Homo sapiens: one gene and its partners. The protein of the gene in region 3 purifies or fractionates together with the protein of the main gene of each other region. This does not show direct contact. Each region holds a gene or a part of one and is shown on either strand. Other genes may lie near its edges.

Region 1 (3,738 bases), on a different chromosome or scaffold from region 3:
AAGGGAAGGGTGTTAGGCATGTACGGGGTGGGGGTGGCTTGGGGCCATCTTGGGATGCTGCCTGCTGAAGTTGCTTCTGCGAATCTATCTCTAAGTGCATTTCCTGCATGAGCGTTAAAGATTGTATTTGACTGAGGACCCATAGCGTTGTATCATTAGAAGGTATTCTAAGCAAAGAATCAAGATTTAAGTGGTTCTCACATTCAACCTGTTAATTTGCCTGACCTTCTAACTGGTAGGGTCAGAAAATGGGTTATGCACCTGTTTGGTTTTCTGTTCCTTTGACATGGACGGCTGAAAGGACTTCAGCTTCTGAGGGAAAACCTGCCCCACTGTGACCCACATGCTGCTGAGTGATTCCATTAGGTCAGGTTCACAGTCTCAGAGAGACGGCTTCTTGGGTTCTTGTGCTGTTGAAAAGCGTCTCTCTCAGCGTGCTCCTCAGGTGATGACCTTGTGTTTTGCCATCTTGGTTACAGGGCACGACCAGGAGTTGACGCACTGCTGCACACACCCCACCCAGCGGCTCGTGGTGACCTCCTCCCGTGACACGACTTTCCGCCTCTGGGATTTCAGGGACCCCTCCATCCACTCGGTGAATGTTTTCCAGGGACACACGGAGTGAGTTGCGGTAGTTTAGACATCTGTCCTTAGTCATGAAAAAGTTCTGTGGGTTGACATGAAAACTTAATTCTAGCCTTAATTTTCAGTATTTCCGACTCTACTATCTTTCAAAAAAATAACTACCTTTCAAATTCTGCTATTCTTTTTCTAAACATTTAGCTCCATTTTGGCTATTTCAAAGGATGTAGGAGATTAAGAGAAGGCACCCTCCGAAGTTCTCTCAAGAAGTTTAATGCAGACAGAATGGGGGAGTGGGTGGAGAGGGTTAGAGAAGAGCAGGGCTGCCAGAGCCTGTAGCTGAGCACAGGGGCCGGCCACGCCACCATAGGAGCCGCGGGAGCTGTTACTCCTACCCACGGGGTGTCTCCTGGATCTTTTCCATCTAGTTTTTGTTATTACACGTGTCTGCGTGGTATATTCTGGGAGAAGGTATACACATAGACGCGCAAACACAGACATAGACCCTCAATCCAGTGTGTCCCTCTCTGCTTGGGTTTCTCTCCGGCAACTCAAGTGTAAGGTCTTTTTTTTCTGAGACGGAGTCTCGCTCTGTCGCCCAGGCTGGAGTGCAGTGGCGCTATCTCGGCTCACTGCAAGCTCCGCCTCCCGGGTTCACGCCATTCTCCTGCCTCAGCCTCCCGAGTAGCTGGGACTAGAGGCACCTGCCACCACGCCTGGCTAGTTTTTTGTATTTTTAGTAGAGATGGGGTTTCACCGTGATAGCCAGGATGGTCTCGATCTCCTGACGTCGTGATCCGCCTGTCTCGGCCTCCCAAAGTGCTGGGATTACAGGCGTGAGCCACCGCGCCCAGCCGTGTAAGGTCTTAACAGAACTCTTCAGTTCTTTCCGTGACCGTCTCCTTCCCCCAGTCTGGCCCTGCTCAGTCAATGATGAGACCGTCTGCCCAGTCACGGGGGCTGTCTACCTAGAGTGTTCCCTGGTTCTTCTCTTTTAATCTCTGTTCCCCGTTCCCCCATCATGCCCCACTGTGGTCCACTGGCAAGTCTCCTGCCAGCCATGCCTGTGGGATCTTCCCGGCCGCTCCTCGCTCCTCCATGCTCCCCCTACCTCCCACCAGTGCTGCTCTCCACCCCGACGTCTGGATAAGCAGTGTGCATTGAAAGGTTTATAAATGAACTCCAAATATGAAAATCTGTTTTATATGTTTAACGTTAGTTACTAAGTTTTAGATTTAATGTTCAAAATGTTAGTAAGATGTTGGAAAGGAAAATAGGACTTTTTGTTTGTTTGTTTGTTTGTTAATAGACGGAGTCTCTTTCTGTCGCCCGGGCTGGAGTGCAGTGGTATGATCTCGGCTCACTGCAGCCTCTGCCTCCCGGGTTCAAGCGATTCTCCTGCCTCAGCCTCCCTAGTAGCTGGGATTACAGGCGCCCACCACCATGCCTGGTTAATTTTTGTATTTTTAGTAGAGGTGGGGTTTCACCATGTTGGTTGGGCTGGTCTTGAACTCCTAACCTCAGGTGATCCGCCTGCCTCAGCCTACCAAAGTGCTGGGATTATAGGTGTGAGCCATCGCGTCTGGCCAGGACAACGTTTTTAAAAAGAAGCTTGAGATTGGAAAGCTAATTCCTTGACTCTGAGGCTGGAACGGGAGCAGGCAGCAGTCACGACCATGCGTAGAGATCTTTATGGCAGCCTGGGTCTGTTCTGGGGGCATCACACGCATTAAACTGCTCCGTCCTGACATCAGGTCAGCGTTTATTCTGCCAGCTCCGTCAGCGATAGCCATAGTAATACAGACCTCCCGGTGGTCAGTGGCTGAACGCAGCACTGTGTTGTTGCTGCATCAGGGTGCAGCAGGCGCTGAGCTGGGCCCCCATGAGCTCCGCCACATGGGCCTGACCCCGCTGCAGGCCAGCTCATTGGTGAGGAAGATGCTGCAGCTCGGGGAGCGCTGCTTCCCATGCATGTTAGCTTGGATGTGGTGCTCCCCGACGTCCACCAGATGCAGAGGGGCCCCACAGCAAAGCCCTGGCTGGACCTGGGCCCACCACCTGGCACCACTGTGTAGGGCGGGGCAGAGGGGCCCGCATGACTGCCCTGCTGTTTCTCATGAGAATTCATTGGAAGGGCAGTCGGAGGCCTAGAGGACGGGAGGAGCAAGATGGTCTCACTCCTGCGCCTGCAGTGCTTTCCTAAGCTTTTTGCTTAGAAAAGTTTCAAGCCTACATAAAAACCAACAGAGTAGTACAGTGTACCCACAAACCCTTCACCTAGGTTCGCCTGTTGTATTGCAGCACTGCTGTCTCTTTACACATGTGTACACACCTCTCTCTGAAACACACGCCCACTAACCCTTCACCTAGGTTCACCTGTTGTATTGCAGCACCGCTGTCTCTTTACACATGTGTACACACCTCTCTCTGAAACACACGCCCACTAACCCTTCACCTAGGTTCACCTGTTGTATTGCGGCACTGCTGTCTCTCTTTACACATGTGTACACACCACTGTCTGTAACACACAACACGCACTACCCTGTCACCTAGGTTCGCCTGTTGTATTGCAGCACTGCTGTCTCTCTTTACACATGTGTACACGCCTCTCTCTGAAACACACGCCCACTTCCCCTTCACCTAGGTTTGCCTGTTGTTGTATTGCAGCACTGCTGTCTCTATTTACACATGTGTACACACCTGTCTGTAACAGACACGCCCACTTATCCTTCACCTAGGTTCACCTGTTGTTGTATTGCAGCACTGCTGTCTCTGTAGATGTGTACACACCTCTGTCTATAACACACACTTGTATATTTTCTTTGGCTGAGCCCTTTGAAAGGAAAACTCCAGCATGCATTTTCTAAGAATAAGGATGTTCTCCTAATACAGTACCATTGTTCAAATAAGAAAATTAGTAAAAATTCTATGGCATCCTTTATCTGGTCCACATTTAAATTTACTCAGTTCTCCCCAAAATGTCTTTGATACTTTTTTTAGAGCTAGGATTTAATCAGGATTCTCTCATCACATTTAGATATTATGTCCTTTGGCTTCTTTTAATCTAGAATGGTCCTTCCCCCATTTTTTGTTACTTTTTAGGATATTGAGTTTTTTGGTGAAGAATCCAAGCCTGCTCTTTTGCAGAACGCCCCT
Region 2 (3,738 bases), on a different chromosome or scaffold from region 3:
TTAGCAGGGTCCTGACCACAAAGGGTAGCTTAAAATTTGTCCTCAACAGGACAAAGGGAAAGCCACTGAGAATTCAGGCAGAACCTGAAATCAATAACAGAGACCGCTCAGAAGCAAAAACCAGCTAACTAGTAAATTCTGCATTTCCTGTGAAAATGTTACTATTAATTTGTTAACAGTGACTAAATTTGAAGTTGAACCCATTTTAAGAAAAACATTTCCACATGCCAGAAAATGACCCTCTTCACAGTTATATATGTATTTCTCTGACTTGGTTACAAATTATATTACACAAAGGCATTCCTCAAGTACCTATATCTTTACTAGTCTCTTGCCTAATGGGAAAATCCTGTTTCGGTATAAACCATATGATGGCTGGCAAGCCATACTCCTCAGGTGCCAGGAAGCTGGCCATTGAAAATCTCAAGATCAGGGCCGAGCACAGTAGCACATGCCTGTAATCCCAGCACTTTGGGAGGCCGAGGCGGATGGATCACCTGAGGTTGGGAGTTTGAGACCAGCCTGACCAACATGGAGAAGAAACCTCATCTCTACTAAAAATACAAAATTGGCCGGGCATGGTGGCGCATGCCTGTAATCCCAGCTACTCGGGAGGCCGAGGCAGGAGAATCACTTGAACCTGGGAGACGGAGGTTGCAGTGAGCCAAGATCATGCCATTGCACTCCAGCCTGGGCAATAAGAGGAAAACTCCGTCTCAAAAAAAAAAAATAAAATAAAAAAAAAAATTAGCCAGGTGTGCTGGCAAACACTATAATCCCAGCTACTTGGGAGGCTGAGGCAGGAGAATCGCTTGAACCCAGGAGCCGAGATCATGCCATTGCACTCTAGCCTGGGCAACAAAAGCAAAACTCCATCTCAAAAAAAAAAAAGAAAGAAAAGAAAATCTCAAGATTGAGGCAATCAGGGAGTGTGTATGAGGTATCTCTTGCCAGCAGAAAAAAAGGAAAATGGAAAAAAAGACTGGTCCTAGAAAAAGGGCAAAAAACACCTTCAATCTGCTAATTCTAACCTCTTTTCAGTATACAATAGCAGGAGTTCTCCACGTAAGTTAAATATTAACAAAGTAATTTTTATAAACTTGAACATGAATTCAACACTGGGACTGGAATTTGGCCCTAAATCTCTGTGACCTTGTTAGAAAAATATGGCTAATTCTTTAAGTAACACAGGATTTCCAATTTTCTCAATTTTATTGAGTTACCACCAAAAGTGTTAATTTAACAATGTGATAGAGGTTGACAGTACGTTTCATTAGTACAAACATGCCTATGTTTTATATAAATTTATAGCTGATCAACTAGAGAATAAATATAATTATCCTTTTATTTAGGTCTCTTTTACATTCACGTTTCTTTCACAGGTTGGAAAAACAAACCTTCACACAGGAATTGACAAATCAAAGGAATTGAGAAGCTCCTTACTGGCTGGTATCCATTTTTGGCACTTGTCACAGAAGTAGGACAGCTGCTCCTCCATCCAAGACACGTCTCCTTCATCACTGTTGAGGGAATCCCCACTCTGGTCGTGCGATAAGTCCACTGATGCCTGATCCTCGGATTCGACGATCAGGAGCGTCTCTCCCTCCACTTCACCTTCCTCCAGTCCTTCTGAGGTCGATGTTCTCGTGGCTTCGTCATCATGCCGACTGATCAGACTACTCAGGTGGATGCTACTATCCATCCCTTCCTTCTCACAAGCTCGGCAGTGCTTCTCAGTAACAACCCTAAGCACTGGACAGTGACCCTAATGGGGCTTCTACCAGGATCACCCAGACAGACTCTTCCAAAAAGTGTCTGCCCACACTCCTTTATTCAGATATAAGGGACCCTGAAAGCAGTAACTTATATGACCCACTGTCCTTTATTTGATCAAGTTTAAAAGGACAGTGACCAAAAAAAAAGATGAAGATACTACTAAGCTACTCTCCATCAACACACACACACAAACTCGTGTTGTCTGTCCAACAGATATTTCACATTCAAGTCATGATTTTTGAGATCCTTTTGCCAATAACATCTTCTCTCTTTCTGCTTCAAGTTGCTCAGTCAAAATAATCTGTTCTCCCAAAAGACGAATGTTTTCTTTTTTCCGAATTTGCCTCTCAATGTCTCTGATAACTCCGTCACGAAGCCTCTAAAAACGTAAGAAACAGATTTCAGTAACATCCCGAACAGGTGGTCCCCATCCTTGTGCCATTCAAATCCAAATAACAGTGTTACCAAAATATACTTAAAACTTTCAGATTCCAAATACCCAGTTACTATTTTAATTTTCTGTACAAATGTAAAATGTAATAAACGATCAAATAAATTTGGTAGTGTGCTAAATGTTATTACTGAAATGATTTCTTATCATATTTTAAGAAATTCCTGAACATTTAGTACAGAAAATTTAATGGGAAATAACAGAAAAAAAAAACTGGCACTATGTTAAATTTTTTTTTATTTATTTTTTGAGACAAGAGTCTCGCTCTGTCGCCCAGGCTGGAGTGCAGTGGCTGCACTCCGCAGCTCACCGCAACCTCCACCTCCTGGGTTCAAGTGATTCTCCGGCCTCAGCCTCCCGAGTAGCTGAGACTACAGGCGTGCATCACCATGCCCAGCTAATTTTTGTATTTTTAGTAGAGACGGGGTTTCACCACGTCAGCCAAGCTGGTCTCGAACTCCTGATCTCAAGTAATCCACCTGCCTCAGCCTCCCAAAGTGCCGGATTACAGGCGTGAGCCACTGCACCCGGCCAATGTTAAATTTTTAAAGTTTAATTGATATGTAATGCTTTAAAAACTTGGCGAGTTACTACAGTAACACTCTAAACTACTCTTCTGTTAGCACTTATCCTAGCTGAACAATAAACACCAACAGAAAAAATGCAGATTACTAAAATCTCAACTTGGCTTCTAGCATGTAAAGTTAACAATGTAAAAATCATGCAGAATTATTAATTAATTATATAACAGAGAAAGAAGAAAAAGAAGGATGCTACTACCAGCGGAAAAAATAAATGCTCATCAATGGTAGTTACCTTAGTAAGCACTAAAAAACCACAGCACTTCAGAACGTGGACCTGGCACCCAAGAAGAGACTTTTAAAAACATCAGTCATTACTAATAACTAACATTTTATAGTTTATTGCTCACAAAATACTCTAAAGGTTTTAGGCCAGGCGTGGTGGCTCACTCCTGTAATCCCAGCACTCCTGTAATCTTAGGCCAAGGCAGGCAGACTGCTTGAGCTCAGAAGTTCTAGACCAGCCTGGGCAACATGGCAAAATCCCATCTCTAGCAAAAATAAAAATAAAAAAAAAAAAAAAAAAAAAAATTGCAGGGAGTGGTGGTGTGTGCCTGTGTTCCCAGCTACTCCGGAGGCTGAGGTGATAGGATCACCTCAGCCTGGGAGGCACAGGCTGCAGTGAGCTAAGATTGTGCCACTTCACTCCCACCTGGGTGACAGAACAAGCCCCATCTCAAAATAAATAAATAGGGTTTTTTTTGTTTTGTTTTATTGGTTTTTTTTTTTTTTTTTTGAGAAGGAGTCTCGTTCTGTCACCCAGGCTGGAGATCTTGGCTCCATGGCACGATCTTAGCTCACTGCAATCTCCACCTTCTGAGTTAAAGCGATTCTTGTGCCTCAGCCTCCCCAGTAGCTGAGATTACAGGCGTGCGCCACCAGGCCTGGCTAATTTTTTTGTATTTTTAGTAGAGACGGGGTTTCACCACG
Region 3 (3,164 bases):
GCTTCAATTGCCAAAACTTCCATGACTTATGACAGCTTGACTATTTACTATCTATCTTGCTCTGGAAAACAAATGCAAGTCTCGTCTCTTTCTTTAGGTATCATGGTATCAGTATCCGACTTACAACATTTGAGACTTTCTTTAAGAGATACGACTTTCTAATATTTGAGTTTTTAACGACATCTGGCCCTTATTTAACCATCACATTTACATCCAATTCCTGCAGGCAAAGTTTTGTTGTTTAAGCTTGGCTAGATGCCCTCTGCAGAAAGCCTTTGCTTTAATGAACACAATTCCACAAAAACTGCTAGAGTTCCCTGCTCTCTTCTCACCCCTGCCACTGTACAACAATAGCATGTAAAGTTTCATCTTGAGTTTCAAATAAGAAGGTAAAAATAAGAAACTGTGTTGCTGGAGAATTAGCTCTTTGTAGTGGCCACTGCTATGACATATTCAACTTGATGCCCTTAGATTATTTGCAGAGTGTTTATGTACTATGAAATGTTCGGCCAGAGCATACAGGAAACTGTAAAATATTTTATGAGATGTATACATGGTTGATGGTAGAATTTTAAATGTAGCCTGGAAAGGTTCTATCCAAATTCCAGGGGGGCAGATGAGAGAATATGTTCTCTTTAGTGATTCAGTTTTACACAAGAGGTTATATGAACTGGAAAGCATTGCCTGATTTGAGAACTACGTAAAAAAATTCATAAAATTAAACTTTATAATTAATTCTAAACAAGTAAACATGTTTTCTTTCAGACCAAGAATCACCAGTTATGTTTATTTGTCTTCTACATGGTAAAAGCATCAGACATGGCTTGTTTATTATTTTATAAAAACAAAGAACAGCAATAAATGAAGGGTTCTCCCCAGATACAGGAATTATATACACCATTTAAAAAATATTTGTGCTTCTGATGGTTTTCAAATAAAAAGTCTTGGTTTTAAAATTGAAACAGTATTTTTGAATCACAACGATTACAATCTAAGAAGGCAGGAAAGCTAATGGCATAACCCTCTAAATGGCACGTTCAGAAAGTTATACTTCCAAATTTAGGTGAAGGGAGAAATATTTCTACTTTCTTTACCCTTAAATCTAGGAAGCAGTATCAAGAGACGCTATTTATTTATTGGCTTATTTATTTTCAAATTCAGTCTCTAAAATACAAGGGACAAAAAATAGAAACTAGCTTTGTATATTTCCATTTGACTTAGAGTTAAGCCTGATGTGTAAGATAACAGACTGTTTACTTAATACCACAGTCACACTGAAGATTTTACTATATAACACGTATGCTTTAGGATGTATCCATAATTAGTACAGTTTTTAAATAAATTTACATCGTTGTCTAGGATAAATATGCCATAAAACCCCAACATGTCTTAGTAATATTCTTATGCTAACCCAGTATGGTAGAAAATACTGTATAATACCGACTGAAAATTAGGGACCATCGATTCTCATCTCTGGTCTGTCACTACATTATTGAGTGATCTTAGGAAACTCACTTTCCCTCTCTAGGCCATGGTTTTTTCATTTGCAAGATGAGCAGCTGTTCTTAATGATCTCTAAGACTATCTTCTGCTCTAACATTATGATTATTGAGAAAATAATTTACTGAAGTTTTCTTAAACATTCCTTCTGTAAATTTTCTTTTGTTTCTATAGTCACTGCTGAAGGAAGTTTTATTTCACTTCAAATTTAGTATTGTGCAAAGAGTCAGAGAAAGAACCTAAGTATAAAAAATAGAAAAGGGAATTAAAAATATTGAGCAATTATGGGGACATGTAGGCTGGTTCAGGACAGACATAAATGACCTTGCTTTATTCTAAATTCAGCTTACTGGCTTATGATGAAAAATGAAAGGTTTTATATGAACTTACTGGGCAAAACCAGATTTTATAAATAATTACCTGTCAGACTGTTCAAGATAGACAAACATATGCCAGACCAACAAAAACACAGACCTGTCATATTTCTGAGAGAAATGTACATTGAGTCTTCCTTCTCTGGGACTATAAGGAGATCAGGTGGAATAAAACGAAGGAAAAAAACCCAAACCCTATATTTTCTGCCTTGTGCATACTTTAAAATGTATAATGTGGGAGAGAAGGAATTTTGATGTGAAAAATTATCCCCTGAAAATTTTATACCATCTATAAGCCTGGCAGATCAAAACCAAATACAATAAATGCTATCGTTTAAAAGTTAAGTTAAGTTAGGATGTTTACTGCAAGCTTGTAATTTTCCATGATTATGGATGCCAAGGAAAATAAGAATGATAAAAAGTTTAATCATAATCATACATTTTAACAAGCATAGATGGAACATCAAAATCCTTTGGGAATATTTTGATATTATATATCTATCCGTGCTTTTTGTTTCTGAAATGCAAATTTTTTCTAAAAAGATTAACATAGAGCAGGTAAATGACAGTTAACAAATGTAAATAATGTGGCATAATAATATTAACTGAGCCTCATAATTCTTTGAGTCTGATGGTTTTCAAATAAAAAGTCTTGAATTTAAAATTGAAACAGTGTTTTTGAATCGCAACTATTACAATATAAGAAGGCAGGAAAGCTAATGACATAACCTCTAAATGGCATGTTCAGAAAGTTTTATACTTCCAAATTTGGGTGAAGGGAGAACTATTTCTACTTTCTTTACCCTTAAATCTAGGAAGCAGTATCAAGAGAGGCTTGCTCTCTTGAGCAGTATCAAGAAAAAGGAGCAGTATCAAGAAAAAGATCTTTCATGTTTCTCATTTCTGTTTTTATTAATTCTTTAGAAAGAGTGTTTCAAGTATGTGTAAAAACCATAAAAGTAAAATTATACAAAACTCCCACAGAATTAAAGAAATAACTTTCTTTTTTGCAACTGAAGTTTAATCAGGAACTGTACAATTACATCTGCTATATTTTGGTTTGTTCCAAAGAGTTACGGTTCCTCATTTACTGGAGAAAGTATAGATGCCAGAAGGGTAGCTCGGCTGCTAACAGCAAGAAATTACCCAGCCCACATTTCCAGTCTAGGTGTGGTAGTGCTTTGAAGGGAGGAAGCAAGAAATCACTCTGCTCCCCTTCTACTGATTCTGAATACTTGGCTTCTAAATGTGTATGGCATGTGCAGGAGTGGTGGATCTGGGGATTGGAGG
Region 4 (3,738 bases), on a different chromosome or scaffold from region 3:
ACGGGAGATTTCATTCTCCAATTACATGGCTACCAAGTCATGGCAGGATTACATTTTTAATAAAGATCAAACCCTTTAGATGGTACAAATATGGATCTAATACACACCTGTACTGGGAGTGGTGGCTCCAATCACCTGCCCCGGCTGCTTGTCCATGATAACATAAGGATTATTAATAACAGAGCCGGCAGTGCCTTGCTTCACGTGGACTGGAGTGGAAGTCGGGGTTCGAGGCAATGGTGATGGGCTTGGAGTTGATATTGGGGAACCTTATTAATTAAAAAGAGAGAATACAAACAAAATACACATATTCAACTCACGTAAGAAGATGTCGAGGACAAGGAAGAAGGTCAGTGCCACCAGGACAAAGGTAACAAATTGGGAAAATAAAATGGATACTGCGTGCTCCCGGTACTGAGCAGCAACAGAGGTACAAAGGAGGCAGAGGATGTATGTTTCATGCTCTGCATCCTTATCCATGGATCAACAGCATCAGTATCATCGAGGAAATTGTAAGAAACAGATTTTATGGTCCCATCCTTGACCTACTAAACATAAATCTCACTTCAACAAGATCTCCTGGTATGCACCTTATAGTTCAGAAAGCAGTGCTTTACACAGCAGTGCAAAACTGCTGAACCTTTTTTTGTAACTGCTGAATCTTGATATGATAAATCTTTTAACACCATAGGCAGGCTTTTATAGTACTGGTTATACTCGAAGACACTAAAATTAGAGACCGGGCATGAGACACCAGGTGCAGTGGCTCGTGCCTGTAATCCCAGCACTTTGGGAGGCCGAGGCAGGCGGATCACCTGAGGTTGTGAGTTCGAGACCAGCCTGACCAACATGGAGAAACCCTGTCTCTACTAAAAATACAAAATTAGCTGGGTGTGGTGGCGCATGCCTGTAATCCCAGCTCCTCGAGAGGCTGAGGCAGGAGAATCGCTTGAACCCGGGTGGCGGAGTGAGCCGAGATCGTGCCATTGCACTCCAGCCTGGGCAACAAGAGCAAAACTCTGTCTCAAAAAAAAAAAAAAAAAAAAAAAAAAAAAGAAAGGAAGGAAGAAAATCAGTAAGTAAACAGCTAGATTTAAGAACCTGGTGTCTTGTTTTGAATAGGAAAATATGAAATTCACCTACCCAGAATAAAAGTCTCTGTCAATACTATGTCACAGCCGTAACCCAGAAAGATTCGTGTTCCCGCAAAATACTCTCAAAAGTTACTGACAGTTAAACATCCTCTACTGTCTTTTATTGATCAAACGTCATCCATGAATTTCTTTAAACTTCAAATCAATTTATATGTTCAGCCTATTCCACCTCTGAAGTAGCAAGTTCCAAAATTTTTCTACCTGGTAGGTAAAATTGCCTACCAATGACAGGGGACGGTGGCTCACGCCTGTAACCGGAGCACTTTGGGAGGCCAAGGTAGGTGGATCACCTGAGGTCAGGAGTTCAAGACCAGCCTGGCCAATATGGTGAAACTCCGTCTCTACTAAAAATACAAAATTAGCTGGGAGTGGTGACACGTGCCTGCAGTCCCAGCTACTTGGGAGGCTGAGCCAGGAGAATCACTTGAACCCGAGAGAGGTGGAGGCTGCAGTGAGCTGAGATCGCGCCATTGCACTCCAGCGTAGGTGACAAGAGTGAAACTCCATCTCAAAAAAAAAAAATTGCCTACCAATTAGAAGCTATTTATCTCTCATCAAAGATTTGGATCCTATTTCTACTTAGCTGTCTACTTACAACACCAAACATTCTTTTTTTCCCCCCTTCATTTAACTATTATACAGAAGTCCTCATACTTCCTGGTTATTTCCAATTGCCTTTTAACAAACATGTTTTGTTCTAAGGTGGAACAGTCAAAACCATATATTCCTACTAAATTTTACCTAACATAAAATGAAACTATCACAAGGCAAAAGATAATCCAATCTTAGTGAACAAGACAACTCAGAACTACCTACTGACAATAGGAATGAATAATTTTCTAGTGTGGTTACAGACAGAATAAAGCATTTCAATTCCCAACCAACTCTAACCCTTAAAATTTAACTCCATGCCAAAGGCCTCTAAATTTTTTCTATCACTAGTCACTGTGGTTTCCATGTATATAATCCCCAAACACGATTCCTACACCTTAGTTTCAGCCATATATCCTAGCAAACATTTTACCTGTGCTGATTCTGGCAGACAAAAATTTGACCATTTGAGTTTCATTTATCTCCTCCATTCATTTCCGTATGAATGAGCTTTGTTTTTGCCTTGTGACAGCTTTGCCAATCAACAGTGATAAACTTCCTTTTGTTAAACATAACACTGCTTAGAAGAACTTAAGAGAAAAAAAGCCAAGTATTTTGTTTTGTTGTTCCAACAATTTTAACATCCAGTCAACTCCACATACACTGTCTTCAAAACATCTGCATACCTGACACAATCTTGCAGCTCATGGTGATGGGCTGGAAGGATTTTCCAGGTGACTCAGGATTAGGAACCTGACTTTGTGGAACAATTTTGCAGCTTGATGCTATTGGCTGGAAAGCTGAATTGCCATGGGAACAAAAGGTAACTTTCTGGGATGTAGTCATTTTGGTGGGTGTTCTTTCCAATGAAGATGGCAAAGCATAAAACGGAGTGTGTCGTTCAGCTTCAGTGCTAGCTGGGAATCCTGCTTGAGATGAAAGAGGCAAACGGCAAGTCATCAATCGCTTTGAAATAAAACCTTACCGTTGTGGAAAAAGAATAAAAATGCATTATTTCAACACCATTTTAAACCATGTACTGGTAGCAAAATAAATACAATCAATCATCCCTTCATATTTTTGGTGAAAAATATATATGCTTAGAATAATGTTTAAAGTGCTTTTTTAAAAAAACTTGAAAACATTATTAACTATAAACCATGTATAACATAAAAAGAACAAAAGTTCTTATGTTCCTCCATTTTTTAATATATAAACTGAAAAACTGTTTAGAGAAGAAAAAATCTTAGAAAGCATTCACTAAATCTAATGATATCCTCCTATCTTATTTATTTACTTATTTTTGAGACATTATTTCACTTGTCACCCAGGCTAGAGTGCAGTGGTGTGATCTCAGCTCACTGCTACCTCCACCTCCCGGGTTCAAGCAATTCTTGTGCCTCAGCCTCCGGAATAGCTGGGATTACAGGTATGCACCACCATCCCTGGCTAATTTTTGTATTTTTAGTAGAGACGGGGTTTTGCCATGTTGGCCAGGCTGGTCTTGAACTCCTGACCTCAGGTGATCCGATGGTTTCAGCCTCCCAAAAGGCTGGGAATTACAGGCATGAGCCACCGTGCCCGGCCCCTCTTGTATCTTATTAAATGCCCATAAAAAAGATGCAATTGAAATCTAAAGAGGAATAAAGTTGAGATTTTATAAAAGAACTATAATACTAACCACATTAAAATATAGGCTTAGAAATAAAACATTTAAGATCAATTTTATATCTTTTATGCTTATATATGGGAACATTAAAATATGTATTTATACACATATATTTGTTAAATTTAAAAATGGCATGGTCAAAATACATTGTTGGTGATGAATCTTTTCTTAAGTAAAACCAGGTATTTAATATCCAAGTTTCTTGCTCGCACAATCAGAAGCTGAACCATAAAGTCTTCCTGTAATACATTATAAGGAATTATCAAGTGATAAAAATCTGTTTTAGGCCAGGCGTGGTGGGTCATGCCTGTAATCCCAGCACTT

What was found.
Region 1: the proteins of SUPT3H (region 3) and WDR37 purify together in Homo sapiens (affinity purification with mass spectrometry, with the first as the bait; one large-scale study listed by BioGRID). This does not show direct contact.
Region 2: the proteins of SUPT3H (region 3) and KAT14 purify together in Homo sapiens (affinity purification with mass spectrometry, with the first as the bait; one large-scale study listed by BioGRID). This does not show direct contact.
Region 4: the proteins of SUPT3H (region 3) and YEATS2 purify together in Homo sapiens (affinity purification with mass spectrometry, with the first as the bait; one large-scale study listed by BioGRID). This does not show direct contact.

The regions. Positions count from the first base shown.
Region 1 is NC_000010.11:1,104,647-1,108,384, forward strand, and holds part of WDR37 (WD repeat-containing protein 37), read left to right. Parts: intron 1-479; coding exon 480-621; intron 622-3,738. UniProt on the Homo sapiens protein: Required for normal ER Ca2+ handling in lymphocytes. Together with PACS1, it plays an essential role in stabilizing peripheral lymphocyte populations.
Region 2 is NC_000020.11:18,140,625-18,144,362, reverse strand, and holds part of KAT14 (cysteine-rich protein 2-binding protein), read right to left. Parts: intron 2,156-3,738; coding exon of another isoform or gene 2,006-2,155; 5' UTR 1,703-2,005; coding exon 1,444-1,702; exon of another isoform or gene 1,194-1,443; intron 1-1,193. Other genes in the region: protein PET117 homolog, mitochondrial precursor, read right to left, coding at 2,006-2,155. UniProt on the Homo sapiens protein: Component of the ATAC complex, a complex with histone acetyltransferase activity on histones H3 and H4. May function as a scaffold for the ATAC complex to promote ATAC complex stability. Has also weak histone acetyltransferase activity toward histone H4.
Region 3 is NC_000006.12:44,825,972-44,829,135, forward strand, and holds the end of SUPT3H (transcription initiation protein SPT3 homolog), read right to left. Parts: 3' UTR 755-3,164; downstream 1-754.
Region 4 is NC_000003.12:183,753,059-183,756,796, reverse strand, and holds part of YEATS2 (YEATS domain-containing protein 2), read right to left. Parts: intron 2,675-3,738; coding exon of another isoform or gene 2,672-2,674; coding exon 2,432-2,671; intron 270-2,431; coding exon 108-269; intron 1-107. UniProt on the Homo sapiens protein: Chromatin reader component of the ATAC complex, a complex with histone acetyltransferase activity on histones H3 and H4. YEATS2 specifically recognizes and binds histone H3 crotonylated at 'Lys-27' (H3K27cr).